Linked DNA regions of Homo sapiens. The protein of the gene in region 1 interacts with the protein of each later gene in a biochemical or structural test. Each region holds a gene or a part of one and is shown on either strand. Other genes may lie near its edges.

Region 1 (8,092 bases):
GAGCCCCAGCACCCCAAGGAGAAGCCGTTTATGTTCAACCTTGATGATGAAAACATACGGACCTCTGATGTGTGATGGAGCACAGTGCCATGGGAGGGAGGGAGGGAGGGAGGACTTGAGAGAAGGAGGCTGTGACTCAGTTTCTCTACCTTGTTGGAGGGTAGTCAGAGGCCTTTATGTCACTCATATTCCTGTGGATGCTCTTTGGGAGGGAGGGGCCCATCCAGCTGGGCTGTGTGTGTGTGTGTGTGTGTGTGTGTGTGTGTGTGTAATATCAACGCAGTGTATTTAATTTGGGGAAGTCACTAGGTTAGAACTGTAGGCATACTCAGTGGAGAGGAAGCTACCTATTCTATTCTAACTATTCTGAGGTCTTCCTGGAGAGGGATTGTTTTAGCAGCTCCTCTCCAGAGGGGGCTGGAAGTCCAGTTTCACCAATGACCAAGTTTTATTTCCTTGTCCTTGTTTTAGTTTTTTCATTTTGTTTTCAGTCCAGGTGCCTCGCAGCTCTTTTGGAATGGGCCAGCATTAGTCTAATTTTAAGCGCTATGTGTTTTGTACCCTTGCAAACTTGCTTTCTCTTTCTTCTTGCTGTTGCCCTTTGAATGAAGCCTTGTGTGCTTGCATGATCAGACCCTGTAATAGGATGAATTTCCATGCACTTAACATGAAGAGATACAAAAAGAATCTAGAGAGAGATATATATTTTTAATGAAATAGAAGCTTGGCATAGAAACATTGATTTAGATGTTATGAGTTGCTGGCCAGAGATTCCTCAGATAAAAGAGCCTAGAAAATTGAGTTTTGAGCGGGCATGGTGGCTCACGCCTGTAATGCCAGTAGTTTGGGAGGCTGAGGCGGGTGGATCACCTGAGGTCAGGAGTTCGAGATCAGCCTGGCCAACATGGTGAAACCCCGCCTCTACTAAAAAATATGCAAAATTAGCCGGGCGTGGTGGTGCAGGCCTGTAATCCCAGCTACTCAGAGGCTGAGGCAGGAGATTCACTTGAACCCAGGAGGTGGAGGTTGCAGTGAGCCAAGATCGCGCCATTGCACTCCAGTCAGGGCAACAAGAGTGAAACTCCGTCTCAAAATATAAAAGAAAATTGAGTGTCCCACCCAAATTTTAGGGCGTACCTCCTTCCATTTGATAAGAAGATGCTATTTCCAGTGTCCCTGGGAGAATTCTTCCATCCAGTTTATATGGTGAATTGCCACCAGCGTTCCCTAAAGGAAGAGAGAACTTAGCTTATTTCTGTCTGTGACTTTTATCAGCTAGATCAGTTAATTGTATTTTTAAATTAAAAATTAGTAACTAGAGGAAGAGACTAAGAGAACTATTTTTACCTGAGTAAATGCTCTCCTCTTCTTGTGTCCAAATCTAATGCAGAGGTGAAAACACTTGATGAGAAAATCCTTTGTGGCTTGAGGGGAATCATGTTTCTTTCAGGACGTGTTGTTTCCCTGAAGTCTATGTCACACTGAGAACTTTTTCTGACTGCACTGCTTTGGAGCTATTCATTTAAATTGAGTTTGGCCTAGTTTTCCTGGTATAAAACAGGAAATCTACATTGTTCCCTCTTTCTCTCCCTTCCATCCCTTCCCCTGCCTTTCCTATACACGCTGGTGTGCTTTTGCCCTCAGAAATTCTTGGTTTGGGAGTTATGTATTTTTGAGTGATCGAGGTTATGACATACTTGGAGCGGCATGATTTCAAGAAGCCATTCCAAATTCTTATAGCTCCTTAGCTCTGGTTTTACTCTCGTATTTTCCCCAAGAAAATTTTTTGGCTATTCAAAGAAAGCACAAAATATGTGATGTGGAACTCATGAAAATAGGGACTTTTGATATCTCTTTAAATATTCCCTGACTCACGGAAAAGATGTCCTCTTTTGGTGTATACATTGTGAAAATCTACCCATTTATCTCTCTCTCTCTCTTTTCTTTTAAATAAATTATCTGATAAGGCCGGCAAGGTGGCTCACGCCTGTAATCCCAGCACTTTGGGAGGCCGAGGCGAGCGGATCACGAGGTCAGGAGATCGAGACCGCGGTGAAACCCCGTCTCTACTAAAAATACGAAAAAAAAATTAGCCGGGCGCAGTGGCAGGCGCCTGTAGTCCCAGCTACTTGGGAGGCTGCGGCAGGAGAATGGTGTGAACCTGGGAGGCGGAGCTTGCAGTGAGCCAAGATCGCGCCACTGCACTCCAGCCTGGGCGACAGAGCAAGACTCCATCTCAAAAAAAAAATTATCTGATAGGTTACTATTGCTAAATTAATTGGCCATTATAATAAGCTGATTTGTTTCTTATTCAGCAAGATCTCTTTTGAGAATGTGACAAATTAAACATACATAGAATCCATATGGTATTATCCTGATAAAGGGAAACGAGGACACTAAGACTGTCAAATGGAAATCTTCTTGTCAATTGGCAAACACTTGGGAATTCCACATTAGAGCATTGCTTGTTTTTAATTTTTTTTTTTTAATTTTTAAAAGACAGGGTCTCACTCTCTTACCCAGGCTAGAGTGCAGTGGTGTGATCATAGTTCATCATAACTTTGAATCTCTGGGCTTAAGCAATCCTCCCATGTTAGCTTCCCAAGTAGCTAGGACTACAGGGTTGTGCTACCACGCCTGGCTAATTTTTAATTTTTTTTTATCTACAGAGCCTGGCTATGTTGCCCAGGCTCTCTCAAACTCCTGGCCCAAGTGATCCTCCTGCCTTGGCCTCCTAAAGTGTTGGGATTACAGGTGTGAGCCACTGCACCTAGCCAGAACATCGTTAATGTAGTTCAATATGAGATAAATTATTATCTTCAATGAAACAAGCTCTAAAAGCATTCCATTCCTAAATTGTATTTCAAACTTCCTATTTTGTTGATATTTCTTAACTTCTGGCCAGTTTTGGACCATAATCTTTTAATGTGAACCAAAGATGGTACGTATTTGACCAAAGCAGTTAGTTTTAAATGTATAAAATTGAACCAAATGGAAAAAATAGGTTGGGGATGCAGTATAGATTAGTGACTAAGTGCATAGGCTCTGGAGTAAATCTGAGTTTTTTTTTTTTTAAAGGAACTAAAAAATGTACTGCATTTTCTTTGTGGAATAAAAGCCTTGCCTGAGTTGTGCTATTTTCATAAGGCTTTTGAAGTGGTCTTGACCCACTGTGTGTAACAGTATTTCAGGTGGTCCTCCCCATGGCTGAATAATGCCATCCATTATTCTTTAATTTTTATTTTTAGAAACAGTGTTTCACTCTGTCACCCAGGCTGGAGTGCAGTGGCCTGATCATGGCTCACTGCAGCCTGGACCTCCTGGGCTCAAGTGATCTTCCTGCCTCACAGCCTCCCAAAGTACTCAGATTATAGGTGTGAGCCACCACGCCTGGCCACCATCTATTACTTTTGAAATCTTCAAAAGACTTGCTTACTCAATGTCAGCTGATGGTTGGTAAAAATAATTTGGCCTTTAGTGTTAAGTGAGACATCATAAGGGTATTGAGGTATACATTATGGAGATTGATGTCAGGTCAGAATATTGGAGTTATACATCTATTTCTGAGTTGAATACTCAGCTCCCACGAGAAAGAAAGTAGTTTTAAGGTCCAGCTTCTTAGTCTACTTGAAGCAAATTTTTTTTCTTTTATATTTCTGAATATAAATATACTCTTATATGGGCTAAAAAGACCCCATGAATAAATAGCAGGTTCAGTAGTTGAGGAGTGGAGTTTAGTAGGTTTGTTTTCAGTATAAATTAGATAACATGTGGAGGTCACAGCATTTTGGAAATTGAGTGTCCCCAAGTGAGCTTTGTTTATAAACTTTCAAAATGTCGGAAGTGGACAGGTTTGTTAAATCTTGTCTGCCAGCACCCTTTTCTTCCTTTGTTCCTTTTCCTCTCTGTGTTATTGCCTGCGGCAGCCAGTCCTTCATACTAGATAGAGTTCAGATAAAGCAAACGTTTGGCAAAAACATACTGTTTGACCTCCTCCCCCTCTGCTTATGAAGGGGTAGCATGATTCTGTGTTTTAAAGCAGTGATGTTTCAGCTGTGAAATGCACTCGCTGTAAGCTCTAGGCTGAGTGCATGGAAACTGTTACGCTTCTCATTTTATGTGATCTCCTAATTGGTATGTAGCAAAAATTTTCTAAAACTGTTTTGTGGCTTGTTTTGTAATAAAACCATGTGAAATACTGAAATATGGTCATGTGTTTTCCTAATACTGACCTTCTGACCATGGGTGGGTGAGCTTTCTTATCAGTCTGCCCTCATTGTCGGTTTTAGGGATTTCAGGAGGTAGGTTCCTGCTCCGGGTAGGGCTAGAGACCTTCCCCTCATTGCCTGGGGGAGAACCTGGCTCCGGGGCGCCGACGGGGGCGGGTGGTAGGGGATGTACGGGTGTGTATATGCAGAGGTATGCCAGGCTCTGCCCCTTAAAGTTTGGGGGCCGGCGGAGGCGGCGCCGTGGCCGGGAGAAAGTGTCTCTCATTTAGGAGGGTTTGCAGGTCCAGAGTAAAGTCACTGAAGAGTGGAAGCGAGGAAGGAACAGGATGATTAGACCTCAGCTGCGGACCGCGGGGCTGGGACGATGCCTCCTGCCGGGGCTGCTGCTGCTCCTGGTGCCCGTCCTCTGGGCCGGGGCTGAAAAGCTACATACCCAGCCCTCCTGCCCCGCGGTCTGCCAGCCCACGCGCTGCCCCGCGCTGCCCACCTGCGCGCTGGGGACCACGCCGGTGTTCGACCTGTGCCGCTGTTGCCGCGTCTGCCCCGCGGCCGAGCGTGAAGTCTGCGGCGGGGCGCAGGGCCAACCGTGCGCCCCGGGGCTGCAGTGCCTCCAGCCGCTGCGCCCCGGGTTCCCCAGCACCTGCGGTTGCCCGACGCTGGGAGGGGCCGTGTGCGGCAGCGACAGGCGCACCTACCCCAGCATGTGCGCGCTCCGGGCCGAAAACCGCGCCGCGCGCCGCCTGGGCAAGGTCCCGGCCGTGCCTGTGCAGTGGGGGAACTGCGGGGATACAGGTGAGCCGCGGGGGCGCGCGCCCTCGGAACACTTTCTAACTCTGGAGGAGCGTAAAGGAACAAGACCTCACTGAGACCGCACAGTTCGCGCCTGGTCCTCCTGCGTCATTTGCCTCCTGGATTCGACACCTCTGTGTTCCTGATTTCCTTTCCTCCTTAACAGGGGCTCTTTACCGGCTGCTACGTGGTTTCTCCCTCCCCATGCACCTTTTGAACACTGTCTTGCCTTTAACATTTTTCCAACTAGGATAGCAGGTCTGGTTCCCTCGAGGCGTACTCTTGAGCCAGTATTTTTTCATAGGGACCAGAAGCGCAGGCCCGCTCAGGAGGAATTACAACTTCATCGCCGCGGTGGTGGAGAAGGTGGCGCCATCGGTGGTTCACGTGCAGCTGTGGGGCAGGTAAAGGAGGAGGAGGAAGACCTCCACTGTCCCAGCTAATGGTTTCTGCGTGCCTACCTGCTCCAGACCCTTCGCAAGCGTCATTTAATCCTAAAAAACCAGTGAGGAAACTGAGACGTAAAGAGGTTGAATAACCTGTTCAAGGTCATTTAACCAAAGAGCAGAGGCACAAGGATGCTGACTTCTAAATCCCAGCTCCCCCTGCCCACTTAGGTGGCTGGTGCTTTTTCCCCCTCCTGCCACAGACAAAATTTAAGGTCAGATATAAGAGCTAGTAGGCAATTTCTTTTCTTTTTTTGAGACAAGGTCTTGCTCTGTCGCCAGGGCTGAAATGCAGTGACAGATCACGGCTCACTGCAGCTCCATCTGCTGGGCTCAAGTAATCCTCCCAACCCAGCCTCTGGAGTAACTGGGACTATAGGCAGGTGCCACCATACCCAGCTAATATTTGTATTTTTTTGTAGAGACGAGGTCTTGTTATATTGCTCAGGCTGGTCTCGAACTCCTGGGCCCAAACGATCTGCCACCTTAGCCTCCCGACGTGCTGGGATTACGGGTGTAGCCACCACATCCAGCTTAGTAGGCATTTTGGTTGTGATCTTGCTCAGCCCCCACTTTGGATACAAGGAAATCCAGACCCAGAGAGCAGGGTTAATTTGTCCTATGTTACTATGTTACGAGGCCAGTTGGCGGTGGAAACTAAGCCAGAATCAGAGCCCTTTGATTCTCTCCTGCCTGGGTCCTTGATACTGTGGTAAGAGGCTGACTTTTGCCTCTAGTATTAGGATTGGGTTCAGTCTTTTCGCAGCAGAGAACCCATGGGCTGCTACACTAACCAGCTCTGAAGAAGCAGTGTCCCTGGAAAAGGAGAGCTGGACCCCACTCTCAACCATGCTCACAAGAGATGGCTGGGGCCCTGTACCTGCCAAGTCCACTGATACATGGAGAAAATTTACGCATAGCCAGGGAAAAGTGAAATGTCTGAGAAAACTGAAGGAAGGCTGGGTACGGTGGCTCATGCCTGTAATCCCAGCACTTTGGGAGGCCGAGGCGGGTGGATCACCTGAGGTCAGGCGTTCGAGAGCAGCCTGGCCAACATGGTGAAACCCCATCTCCACTAAAAATACAAAAATTAGCCAGGCGTGGTGGTGCATGCCTGTTATCCCAGCTACTTGGGAGGCTGAGGCAGGAGCCTGGGAGGTGGTTGCAGTGAGCCGAGATTGCGCCACTGCACTCCAGCTTGGGCAACAGAGCGAGATTCTGTCTCAAAAAAGAAAAAAGAAAAGAAAAGAAAACTATGATGGAGGTATGTTTAATAAGAGTGAGGTTCCCATGACTCAGATTATATGGCTGTATCCCCTAACTTTCTTGCCCTCTGTTTACACTATTGTCTTGTGGAGACAGGTTACTTCACGGCAGCAGGCTTGTTCCTGTGTACAGTGGCTCTGGGTTCATAGTGTCTGAGGACGGGCTCATTATTACCAATGCCCATGTTGTCAGGAACCAGCAGTGGATTGAGGTGGTGCTCCAGAATGGGGCCCGTTATGAAGCTGTTGTCAAGGATATTGACCTTAAATTGGATCTTGCGGTGATTAAGATTGAATCAAATGTGAGTATTTCAGGGCTGAGTCAGAGTCTACATATTTGGGGATTTTTATCTATTTGCTGATATTTTCTGCCCCACTACACTCTCACACCACATCTTTTCTGTTGAATATATGCTTTTCTCTGGTTTCTTTCTGTTCTTTACTCCCTCTTTTATTTATTTGCTTCAACGCCTTTCTGTATATCCCTAACCGTTTCTTTCTTTTCTTTCTTTTTTTTTGAAACAGTCTCCCTCTGTCACCCAGGCTGGAGTACAGTGGCTCAATCTCAGCTCACTGCAACCTCTGCCTCCTGGGTTCAAGTGATTCTCCTGCCTCAGCTTCCTGAGTACCTGGGATTACAGGTGCCTGCCACCACGCCTGGCTAATTTTTGTACTTTTAGTAGAGACTGGGTTTTACCATGTTGGCCAGGCTGGTCTCGAACTCCTGACCTCAAGTGATCCGCCCGCTTCGGCCTCCCAAAGTGCTGGGATTACAGGTGTGAGCCACTGCGCTTGGCCTCTAACTGTTTCTATTAACTATCAAGCAGTCTTTTTTTTTTTTTTTTCCTCCTTCAACAAATGCTGCTTCAGGGAAAATTATTTCTCTACTTGTCTTAGGATATCAGAAATTACTGCGATGGACTCAAAGTTGCTAAGGAATACTTTGAAGTCCTTCCTACACATAGTACTGGTAGTCTGCACATCACATATATTGACATGGTGTCTGAGAGCTTTTTAGAAGTTCAGAGTCTCAGCCTTTACCCAGATAGATGTGCTGACTCAGAATCTGCATTAACATAACATCCCTAGGTGATTTGCATGCACATTACAGTGTGAGAAGTGTCACCCTGGGTGATCTCCTTTCTGTTTGTGGCTTATTCACTTTGACTGTTAAGCTTTGAGCTGGAATGGTGCTGTGTAAATTCCTAATGTCAGTTTATGTTCATCAGTGACTTCACTGGCTGTTTACTAATAGTAATTTCTACAAAGTAATTGTTTTAGATCTTAGAAATGATCCTAGTCATCTTAACACTCAAGAGCTTCATGGTAGTTGGACTTTGAGGAAGAAGTAGAAGGCAATCAT
Region 2 (10,800 bases), on another chromosome or scaffold:
ATATAAGTGAATTTGACACCAACAGACTTGCCTCCTATTGTATATGGGTGTCTTTGGGGTGGCACTGAATCTTTCTACTGTATTGCAGATCCCCACTCTGAGATGGGACTGAGGTGGACATTGGGGAGGGGGTGACATTTTTGCCACATTATTTACTTCTAATGACAACTGGGTGTTGAATGGTCTGTCATTGACTGTCAACACATCAGGGCCACCTTCTCCATCCCACAGGAGTCTCCTTAAGGACTGGTCTGTGGTTGATCCCTCAAGTCTGCCTCCAACTTTCAGGGACCCCACTCCCCAGTCTTCCTTAAATGTAGTAATGGGCTGCTGCAATACAGCCATCCTCATCCACCATAGTTTTGCCCATTAGGGACAGGCAGGAATTCCATCCCATGCTAGGTGAAGGATCACTCTATTTAAACCCAAGGGGAATTTTCTCTATTTTTTTGAGGAAATTTCAGAGGCCATGGAAGCTTGCCTACTTGTGGCTGGAATGAAGTCAACTCAGCATCATCACTTAAGTCAGCACCTACTCCTCAGAAGCTCTGATTGGCTGCTAATGCCATCACACGGGCCACCCTGCTAATCGTGAGTAATCGTTGTAGCTGAATTAAAACAAAGCTCACTGGATCCTTGGGATTTAGGATTTCACATTTCCAGTTTTGACTCTTTGGGAATGACCTCAAAGTTCCATGTTTAATGTGCAGTTTTGCTGACCCATAGAGCCTCCAGTATGGGAGGGGACTCCTTGGCTAGTTCTTGAACTGAGCTGACTGCCTGCATCCTCACATCTGTTCTGTACTCCTCGCTGGCTCCTTGCAGGCGACGTGGACTTGGGAGTTTGGATGGAGTGTCTCTGACCATTGCATAGACCAATTGTACAATGTATGTGGCAGAAATTGTACAAAATATCTAATGATTTGAAAATCCCAGTGGGAGCCTGCCCTCAATTTGTTGGCCTGGTCTTTGACCTTGGTGCCTCAAGACTCAAATAACCTCACCCCGACCCTGTTAGAGCCAACTGACTGCATTTGTTCTTTTTTTGGAGACGGGGTCTCGCTCTGTCGCCCGGGCTGGAGTGCAGTGATGTGATCATAGCTCACTGCAGCCTCAAACTCCTGGGCTCAAGCGATCTTCCTGCCTCAGCCTCCTGAGTAGCTGAGACTACAGGTGTGGGTCATCACGCCCAGCTGAACTGATTACTTTGATGCCTACCGTGATTATCCGTGAGGGTAAAGTTGTTCTCAGTATTCAAGATGAATTTGAACTTCACGTTTCGTGGTGTTATGTCCTTGTCTATTGCGGAGATCTGCAGGACCAGCTGGAGTGTGGAAGACAGGAGATGGTCAGTGATGGTGGTGGGGTGGTGGGGTGGTCTGAGGTTTAGCGATGGAGCCTTTGGGTTTAAGTCCTGACCATGGCTGTTTCCCACCTGCAACACTCACCTATTTAGTTCTTCATAAAGCCATTCTTTCTACTTCCCTGCCCCGCCAATCTACTCCCCATATATTCCCTCTGAGCCTCAGTTTCTCCATCTGTAAAATGGGCATAATGTTATTTTCCTCAAGGCTATTGTACAGGGGAACTCCTGCTGACTCTGTTGAGCAGTTCTGCCCCCCAGCCTGCCCCAGGGTGGTGCTGCCTTCCCCTCCCACCTGAACCAGACTCACCTGGCCATGGACAGCGTTCTCACACACTTTGGGCTGGTAGGGCTTGGCAAACTCCGGGGCATTGTCATTCTCATCCAAAACTTCAATGTGGACTTGCACAATGGATTCTTTTCCTGTGGGGGTTCCTGCAGGGGAGAAGACTGTCACCATTATGGGCTCAGCTGATGCTGGCCTTGGGCGGTGGAAGATGTGTGGAAGGAGGGCTGCCCTATGGAGGCCACTTTTTGCAGGAGGAGGCTGTGGAACAGAGGCCCAGGATGGTGTTCTGGATAAAAGGAGTTTGGTGGGGGGAGGTGTTAAATCTCATCCATAAGGTTTACTGAGGTATTACTTTGATTATGAGAATCAAAAAGGTAAACCACCTAAGTGCATTAAAAAAATTGTAATTAAATTCCTAAAATTAAAAATTTAATTATTTGATTAAATACATAAAACATAATAAATTAATCATAAAAGAATTGAAAAGGTAAACAACCTAAGTGAGATTGGGTCAGTAAACTAGGCTACCGGAAAAGACTGAAATGGATGGCCACTGACAATGCCTATGTCACTTACATCTTAAACATATAATTAAAAAAAATTTTAAGGCCAGGTGCTGTGGCTCACCCCTGTAATTTCATACTTTGAAAGGCCTAGAAGGGAGGATTGCTTGGGGCCCAGAGTTGGAGACAAGCCTGGGAAACATGGTGAGACCCCATCTCTACAAAAAAAATTAAGACATTTGCTGGGCAATGTGGTGCACGCCTGTAGTCCCAGCTGCTCAGGAGGCTGAGGTGGGAGGATCATTTGAACTCAGGAATTAGAGGCTGCAGTGAGCTGTGATCGTGCCACTGCACTTCATCCTGGACAACAGAGTGAGACCCTGTTTCTCTCTTAAAAAAAAAATTAGTACCATGAGAAAGTGGTTCTGGAATAAGGTTAAGTAAAGGTTAAGTAAAAATGTGGAATATAATATCTTACACAAACATTACAATCTCATGTAAGTATAAAAATATGTATAAAAATAAAAATACATGAATGTGCTAATAGTAACTGTCTCTGCATGGTGGCATTGGTGGGAGGAGTATTTTCTTCTCATTTTCTGTATTTTCCGTATTTTAAACCATTTAAATGTAAAGAGTCTATGAATGGGATTATGTGGAGGAGAAAGAAGCAAAGACTGATCTGGCCAAACATGCAGGAGTCCATTACAGTTTGGGGCAGCAGCTGTGTTGGCAGAAGTGAGTCTGGGTGGGCCCGGCAGGCGCCAGGGATCCTTGGCCTAGCGGGCTCCTGGGTAAAGTGGGAGTATTAATAGTTCTCCTGGAGGGTGATTGTGATTTTCTAATATAGATAGAGGATGCAAAACTCCAACTCTTGCCCCTCCCTCTGGCAAAAATTACACAATTTCTAGAGAAACTCACAATCTCAAAATTGGAAGCTGCTTCACATTTTGAATTCTACCTATTAACTGGTGCATAAACACCCTCTGAAGGAACATTTCCCAAACAGCCATGATAACTAAGAATCATGGGACCCTTGTTAAATGCACATCTCTGGCTCACTGGACCAGAACCTGCAGGGTGGAGTAGAGCTTTATGCTTAATAGGTGACTTGGGTGATTCTCGTCACAGAGACATCTGCACAGCCTGTTTCATGACAGTGGTTTTCAAACTGTGACATGCATGAGATTCCGATTCAGTGTGGGGGTGAGGCCCGAGATGCAACAAGGTCTCAGGGGATGTTGATACTGCTGGGTTCAAGGACCACACTTGGGCATGGGAGCTCTATAGCATCCCAACCAGCGGGTGCTTCAGCAGGCACTTCTAATACGTCTAGAGACCCCAAATTATTGATTATGCCAGTTTTGGAAGAATGAGGGAAAAGGAAAAGAATCCAGGTGCCCTGGCAGATGTGGCCACTCACCAGTGGAATCCAGTTCTTTGGCCTCCACAGTCAGGTTATACCAGGGGTAGACTTCTCTGTCCAGTTCTTTCTCATTGTAAATGTCCCCCTTTTTTGTGACTCGGAAGAACTGGCCCTTGTCACTGGTCCTGCGGATGGAGTATCTGCCCAGGGGAGAGAGTTTCATGGCTTTCCATTGTTCTTTGCTGAGTCTACACTCCTCAGCATGATGGACAAGGCCCTTCTGCATCTGTCCCCTGCATCCCACTCCATGCCCCTCTCTCACTGCTCATTGCACTCTGCCACTCAGACAAGAGTGGACCTACACAGAGGGATTCAGGATAGCAAGATAATGTCTTTGATCTTAGTTACATTGCCATCACTGGACTGGAGGTGGTACCTGAGACCATCAGATGCACTTTCAGAGCTGAACAGGTGACATCACACCATAGCTGGGACTTGTTTTAGTGATTAATGAAAAGATCATTGGGCAAGAGCCAGGAAGGAATACAAAAAGAGCTGGAAGAGATAAGAAGTAATTACAAAGAAATTAACTTTGTGAAATAAAAAACTTAAAAAGTTCTTTCAGAAATCAGGAAAAATCTATGGAAAGATAAATATATATGTTTTGTGTATATAGGAATAATAGTTGCTATTAATGAGGAAAATCCCAGAACAAACAGAACAGAAGAAATAACAAAAAAAAAAAAAAAAAAAAAGAAAAGAAAAGTTTCCTGATCTGAAGAAAGGCTTGAGTCTACACATTATAAGATGTCATTGACATCAGGCATCATTGAAAAAAACCCCAATACTTAGGCAAATCCTGACGACACTTACGAATTTCAAGGCTGTGTGAAGAAACTGAAAAGAGTCCAGACAGAAAGAAATAATTTCCTTATGAGGAAAGAAAAATCAGATTTGCCTCAGATGCCCCCACAAAATTAAATACTAGAATACATTGATAGTATTTTTGAAGGGAAGTGTTTATAATCTGAGGATTATACGAATACATCTAGGTGTTATTAGAAGGCAAGGTTGGGCATGGTGGCTCACATCTGTAATTTGAGTGCTTTGGGAGAGGCTGAAGCTGGAGGTTTGCTTGAGGCCAGGAGTTCAAGACCAGCCCAGCCCAGGTGACAGAGTGAGACCCTGTCTCACCAAAAAAAAAAAAAAAAAAAAAAAAAAAAAAAAAAAAAAAAAAAAAGATTAGCCTGGTGTGGTGGTGTGTGCCTGTAGTCCCAGATACTCAGAGGCTGAGGTGGGAGGGTTGCTTCAGCCTAGATGTTCAAGGCTGTAGTGAGCTATGGTTGTGCCACTGCACTCTAGCCTGGGTGACAGAGGAAGAACCTGTCCCCCCCACCCCCCAAAAAAGGCAAAGAACTAAGATATTTGTGTCCTGAATTTTTTTTTGAAAACTTACTGTATCTAACTAAACATCTCAATATAAAGTAAAAACCTGGCATGGGAAGAATTAAAACAAAACTATTGATTTTTTTTATCATACATAGAAAAGCAATGGGTGTGTGTATGTCTATAATAGTTTTAACTAGAAAATATAGGTCCAAGAAAACATTTTAAATTTTGCAGATAGAAGTAAATCTCACTGGTAGAAATAAAAATGGATGCACCTCATCCAAATATCTAGGAGAAAAAAAAAATAAAGAAACATAGACTGTATAGCAAAGATGAGGAAAAAGAAAAAAGCCATTAAATTTGATAAATGAGAAATGTAAAACAAGATAAAAGAAGGAACATCAAACATATCAATTATGATGAAAAATGTAAATAGGTTAAACACAAAGCATTTCAGTTTAGATTAAAAAGCAAAGCCAAATGCATTCTTGTTTTCAAGAGACAACTTAATGCCAAATGACCTGGAAAAATTAAAAGTAAAGGTTGTAAAATTTGCATTAGGCGTATATGAATAACATGAAAACAGGACTAACAAATGTAACATCAGGAAACAGAATTAAAGGCAAAATATTTAAGCAGAACAAATTGGCTAATTACATTTGGATGAAAGTTACAAACCATAATGAAGGTAAAATAGTTGCAAACCTTTGTTAACTGAATAGAAAAATTTAAATACATAAAGTCAAAACTTAGATATTCTAGGAAGAAGTGGACACAAATACAATTGTATCACATCACAGAACAAGCTAAAGCAAAACAAAAAAAACACCCTATGACTTATAAATGAAAATAAAGAAATCAAGTCAATCTCTTAAATAAACCCTTGGATCAAAGGAGAAACAAAAATTATAATTACAGGCTATTTAGAAAAGAATGGCAATGAAGAGTAGTCCCAAAACTTAGGATATGAGGCCAAAATGGAAGAACATATTTTGTCCTTAATAAGAAGACTTAATACCCTTGAAACATTAGCTATACCAAAATTAATATATAAACACTAGAATTCTAATGTTTAAAAAACCTGGATACAAAATTTTAAATTTCACAAAAGAAAAAATGAGAGTTGACAAAAAATTATATCAAATAAAAAAGCAACATGGGAAGGACTTTTATGTATATCTAAGATCTAGTGTAAAGCTATATGGTTTGGATCTGTGTCCCCACCGAATCTCATGTTGAAATGTAATCCCCAGTGTTGGAGGTGGGCCCTGGTGGGAGGTGGATAGACCATGGGACAGAGTTCTCATGAATGGGTTAGCTCCATCCCCTAGGTTCTGTTCTCAAGCTAGTGAGTTATCATGAGACCAGGTTGTTGAAAAGTGTGTAACAACTCCCTTCCCACTCCTGTTCTGGCCGTGTAAGACGTGCCTGCTTCCCCAGGACTGTAAGTTTTCTGAGGCCTCCCCAGAAGGAGAAGCCACTATACTTCCTGTTAAACCTCTTTTCTTTATAAATTACCCAGTCTTAACTATTTCTTTATAGGAGAATGGACTTATACAAGCTAGTAGAATAAAACAGAATAGCTTTGCTATAGAATGATGGATAGGACAGAGAATTAGAAGTAGATACAGGTATATACAGAAAACTTAGTATATAATGAAGGTGGGAAAACGATGACTTATTATTATAATATTTAGTAAATGGTGCTGGCAAAATCAGCTATGCATCTACAATAAAATAAGATTGAATTGAATTTATACTTACTATTGCATATTATATGGCTCTAAAAAGTATCTGTTGGAACTATATCATTTTTTTCTAAAGATTGTAAAAGAGAAATTTAGTTAAGATAGAAGAGCAAATATCGATGAAACCAGCATGGCATGATCCAAAAAAATTTTAAAACAATCAAACATCAAAAGCAAACAGACAACAACAAACCCACCATAAATGCATCCACATGTTTGTGTGGTCACGAAAAGAAAGGAGCAATAGGACCAGGTTAGGCCACGAACATGAGTTATCTGAGAGTGGGGGTTATCAGTGTTTTCTTGGTAGATCTCTGTGTTGTTTCACTGTATAAAATGAACACTTCTTACTTTTGTGGTTTGGGGAAGATAGATTCAAGAATACAGTTTTAGTGAAGGGGCCTCTGGTGTGTCGTCTGATTGGTTGCTTTCTTGACTGTCAGATCTTACCACATAGGACTGGTGAGAGCTGTGGTGCAGAGAATAAGCCTTCAAGGCCGGACAGAGGACAAGTAGCTCTGGATGCCCAGGACCATGCTAGGTGGGGGAGTCCAGGCAGGTCAAGATGCCAGGCTGCCAAGTGCAAGAGCTTGGGCTTCTGGTCTTGCCTCTGTCACTTTCCCTGTAAGTGCTAGGAGAAGCCAGTTCCCCTCTCTGAGTCCTGGCCTCAGACCAGCAGGCATAGGAACATCCAGGCCGGATTGTCCTTATCATTCTCATCGACACACGCCCCCTTACCCAATGCTATGCCTAGCCGCATCAGGGTCCATGGCCAGCACTGTGCCAATCAGAGGCTTCTTCTGGTTTTCCTTCAGCTGGAAGTGGTAGAAAGGCTGCTGGAAAATGGGGGGCTCGTCCACATCTGTGATGTTGATAATGACCTGGGCTCTGTTTCCCGCGGGAGGGCTCATGTATCGGAGGTCGATGGTGGGGTCTGTGGCCTCGACGATGAAGCTGTATTGCTGGATGTATTCATAATCCAGAGGCTGCGTAAGGAAAAAGGATGGTGAGTGCCTGCTCTGGGCCAAGCATGTGTGTGGCACATGATCTGCACAGCAACTATGCAAGGTAGTACCAGGATGACACCCATTTTATAGATGAGGGGCCCATGGCCTCGACAAGTGATATTTCTGAGGTCATCAAGACAGCGGCTGGGCCTGGTGTCTGTCTTCAGCTGCTCCCCATTTCATCTCAGCAGCCTCATGGCCACACCCACAACCCTGGCTGTGTGCCTGGCCCTATTTCCAGCGTTTGGGACATAGAATGGATCAACTATGGTCCTGCTCTTAAGAGCGTCACTAGTGGTTCTACCCACAGGTCCTTAAGGACAGGCTTTTTCTTTGTTCTTGAGACAGAATATTGCTCTTGGTACCCAGATTGGAGTGCAATGGCACGACCTCCGCTCACTACAACTTCCACCTCCCAGGTTCAAGCGATTCTCCTGCCTCAGCCTTCCAAGTAGCTGGGATTACAGGCACCTGCCACCACGCCCAGCTAATTTTGGTATTTTTAGTAGAGACGGGGTTTCACCATATTGGCCAGGCTGGTCTCAAACTCCTGACCTCAGGTGATCCACCTGCCTCGGCCTCACAAAGTGCTGGGATTAGAGGCGTGAACCACCGGGCCCGGCCGGACATGCTTTTTCTTTATGCCTTTGCTCAAGATCCTTCTCCTGCCCTTGCCTGCCTAGAAAACTCCTACTCATCCCTCAGGAAGCCAAGCAGAAGGTAATCAGATGCTCTCTCAGAAACCCCTCCTAGCAGAGGTAATTGCTCCCTGTTCAGAGCTGCTGTGTATCACTTACACCTGGCTGTACTTTTTTTGTTCATGCATATGTCTTCCCCATTCGCTGAGACCTTTGCTGACACTGGAGGCTGTGTCTGCCTCTCCTTGGTGTTTCCAAGCCCCAGCATGGGGCTGGTTCAGAGAAGGACTCAGGCCCAGGACTTGCAATCCTCTGCATGGCCATTCCAGAGGCATTTTTTATGCCCCTCACAGGACCTCTCCCTCCTCTTCCAGATTCAGTTAATCTGGCTTCTCTGGCTGTCAGCAGCATCCAGTGTCAGTGGCCATCCATGTCACCACAATTACTCACTGTTTTCTTCATGCTGATGGATTTCTACTGGCCAGGACACATGGCAGGCCAGAAAGTGCCAGAGAGGTAATAACTCCAGGGGCAGCCCCCAGTCAACACCACGGACAGCGGGTGTATAAATACCCCAGCTCCTTCACCCTCAGCTTCTCCAACTCTGGGATGTGTTCCACACTTACCCCGCAGTGGGTCATTGCTCCTGGGGCTTCCTGGGATCACCTCCCAGATAAACAATTTACACCCAGTCATGGCCTTAAGATTTGCTTCCCAAGTAACTCGGCCTAAGACACTGGATCACAGTCTCCATGAACACATGACCACCTTGGAGCTTTGATGGTCCTTTGATGGTCTCTGGCCCAGGAGCAATCCCCAAGCAGGACCTGTGGGTGCCAAGAGCCCCAAGCCTCACGTTTGACATTGTTGCCATTGGCCTACAAACCTTCATGGGCTTGATGATGCCCTCGTTGTGGGCGGGGTTTGTCTCAATGGTGAAAGCGTCCTGGTAGTCGCCCCGCAAGATGCTGTACTTGGTCATCCGGTTCTGGGGCTCATCTGGGTCCTCAACAAACAGAGAGCCCACAGAGGTGCCCACACGGGTGTCTTCAGGCACGACAAATGTGTACTTGGCTGATGCAAACAGAGCACCCCAAAGGGCTTTGGGTTAATGAGATAGACAAGGCGATTGCCTCTTTCAGCTATTCTAACATATTTTGATAAAAGAAATGGGCATAATAAAATAATCATAAATAATAATACCCCTGGGATTCTCAAGGTAAAGAGGGTCTTCCCTATCTGTATGTCCATCCATCCATCCCTCCATCCAATAAATAGCTATTGAGCACCTATTGTATGCCAGGCACTTTGCTAGGGGACCTATCAATGGACAAGAGAGACAAGTCCTGCCTTCAGGGAGCTTATGCCATGTACGAGGAAGCCACTTCAGGACAATTGGCCTGTCTCTAGGGTGGCTGAACAACTGAATGACAGTATCAGCACTGGGAGTTGCAAGTGGAGAGCCATCTGCCCCAGGCATGGGAAAAGCTCTCATTAGACATTCTCTGTGGGGTGGATCAGTGTGTAGGTGGGGTCAGGGCCCAGCCCTGGCTCTGGATATAGAACTTTGCTGTCCCCATGTTCACTGGCTTGTGGGAATTTCTAGCTGGGACCTGAGTCTCAGGGCTTTGATTTTCCCAAGCCCATGGGATCTGGGTGAAACTGCTTGTGTCTCATGGTGGGACACAGTACAGTGGTGGCACCCAGCAGGGAGTGGGATTTCCCTCTGGCCTATGAGGGGATTGTGGCAGGGGGCGGCAGGATGGCCTTGGGAATGTGGTATTGGGATGGAAGCAGGGCCCCTCCCTTCACCCAAAGGACTCCTTTGGGCATCAGGCCTACCCTGGGATAGAGGGAGAGGTAAAGTGATTTGTAACTCTTTTCCCAGAGCCCCAAGTCACTGAGTCTGGGGTATCCCAGCCCCCCTTCCCAGGGCCCTAGAGGAGGGGCTCACTCTGGGTGAAGAAGGGGAAGTTGTCATTGATGTCTTGCAGAGTGACCAGCACGGTGGCCGTGCCCGAGTCCCCCCGGAGGCCCTGGGCATCTCGCGCTTCCACCACGATCTCATACCTGGCCTGCTTCTCTCGGTCCAAGCTTTTCGTTATTGTGATAATACGTCCTGCAAAAAGATTCCCAGCAGGAACCATGTTACCAGCTTCTAGAAAATACCGATGCCTAGGGCCTGCCCAGAGAGAACCTGACTTAAGAGCTTCCCTGGTGATTCCACTGTGCAAATGGGGCTGAGAACTGTGAGTCTACAACCCACTACCTCCATAGCCTATACTGTGAGGCCAAAGCTGGCCCAATAGTTGGGTTCGGTATTGGTCCTCGCCACCTGAAATATTGTGTTGACAAAGACCATGAGGCCATATCTAGGCTCAGATGGAAAGAGTGCTGTGATAGATTAGTGATGTCTGCCTTGGTGCACTGTAGCATAGTAGTGGCATCTGTGCTATGTATTTGCCATCTCTCTGAAAGACAGTTCCACTGGACTTCT

The links.
Region 2: of the proteins of HTRA4 (region 1) and CDH5, one has a biochemical effect on the other in vitro, tested with the Homo sapiens proteins (one study listed by IntAct).

Annotation. Positions count from the first base shown.
Region 1 is NC_000008.11:38,969,709-38,977,800, forward strand, and holds the start of HTRA4 (serine protease HTRA4 precursor), read left to right. Parts: upstream 1-4,519; 5' UTR 4,520-4,555; coding exon 4,556-5,021; intron 5,022-5,322; coding exon 5,323-5,422; intron 5,423-6,826; coding exon 6,827-7,031; intron 7,032-8,092. Other genes in the region: PLEKHA2 (pleckstrin homology domain-containing family A member 2), read left to right, coding at 1-75. UniProt on the Homo sapiens protein: Serine protease.
Region 2 is NC_000016.10:66,388,980-66,399,779, reverse strand, and holds part of CDH5 (cadherin-5 preproprotein), read right to left. Parts: intron 10,423-10,800; coding exon 10,258-10,422; intron 9,405-10,257; coding exon of another isoform or gene 9,378-9,404; coding exon 9,190-9,377; intron 7,645-9,189; coding exon 7,397-7,644; intron 3,722-7,396; coding exon 3,579-3,721; intron 1,799-3,578; coding exon 1,674-1,798; intron 1,325-1,673; coding exon 1,219-1,324; intron 1-1,218. UniProt on the Homo sapiens protein: Cadherins are calcium-dependent cell adhesion proteins. They preferentially interact with themselves in a homophilic manner in connecting cells; cadherins may thus contribute to the sorting of heterogeneous cell types.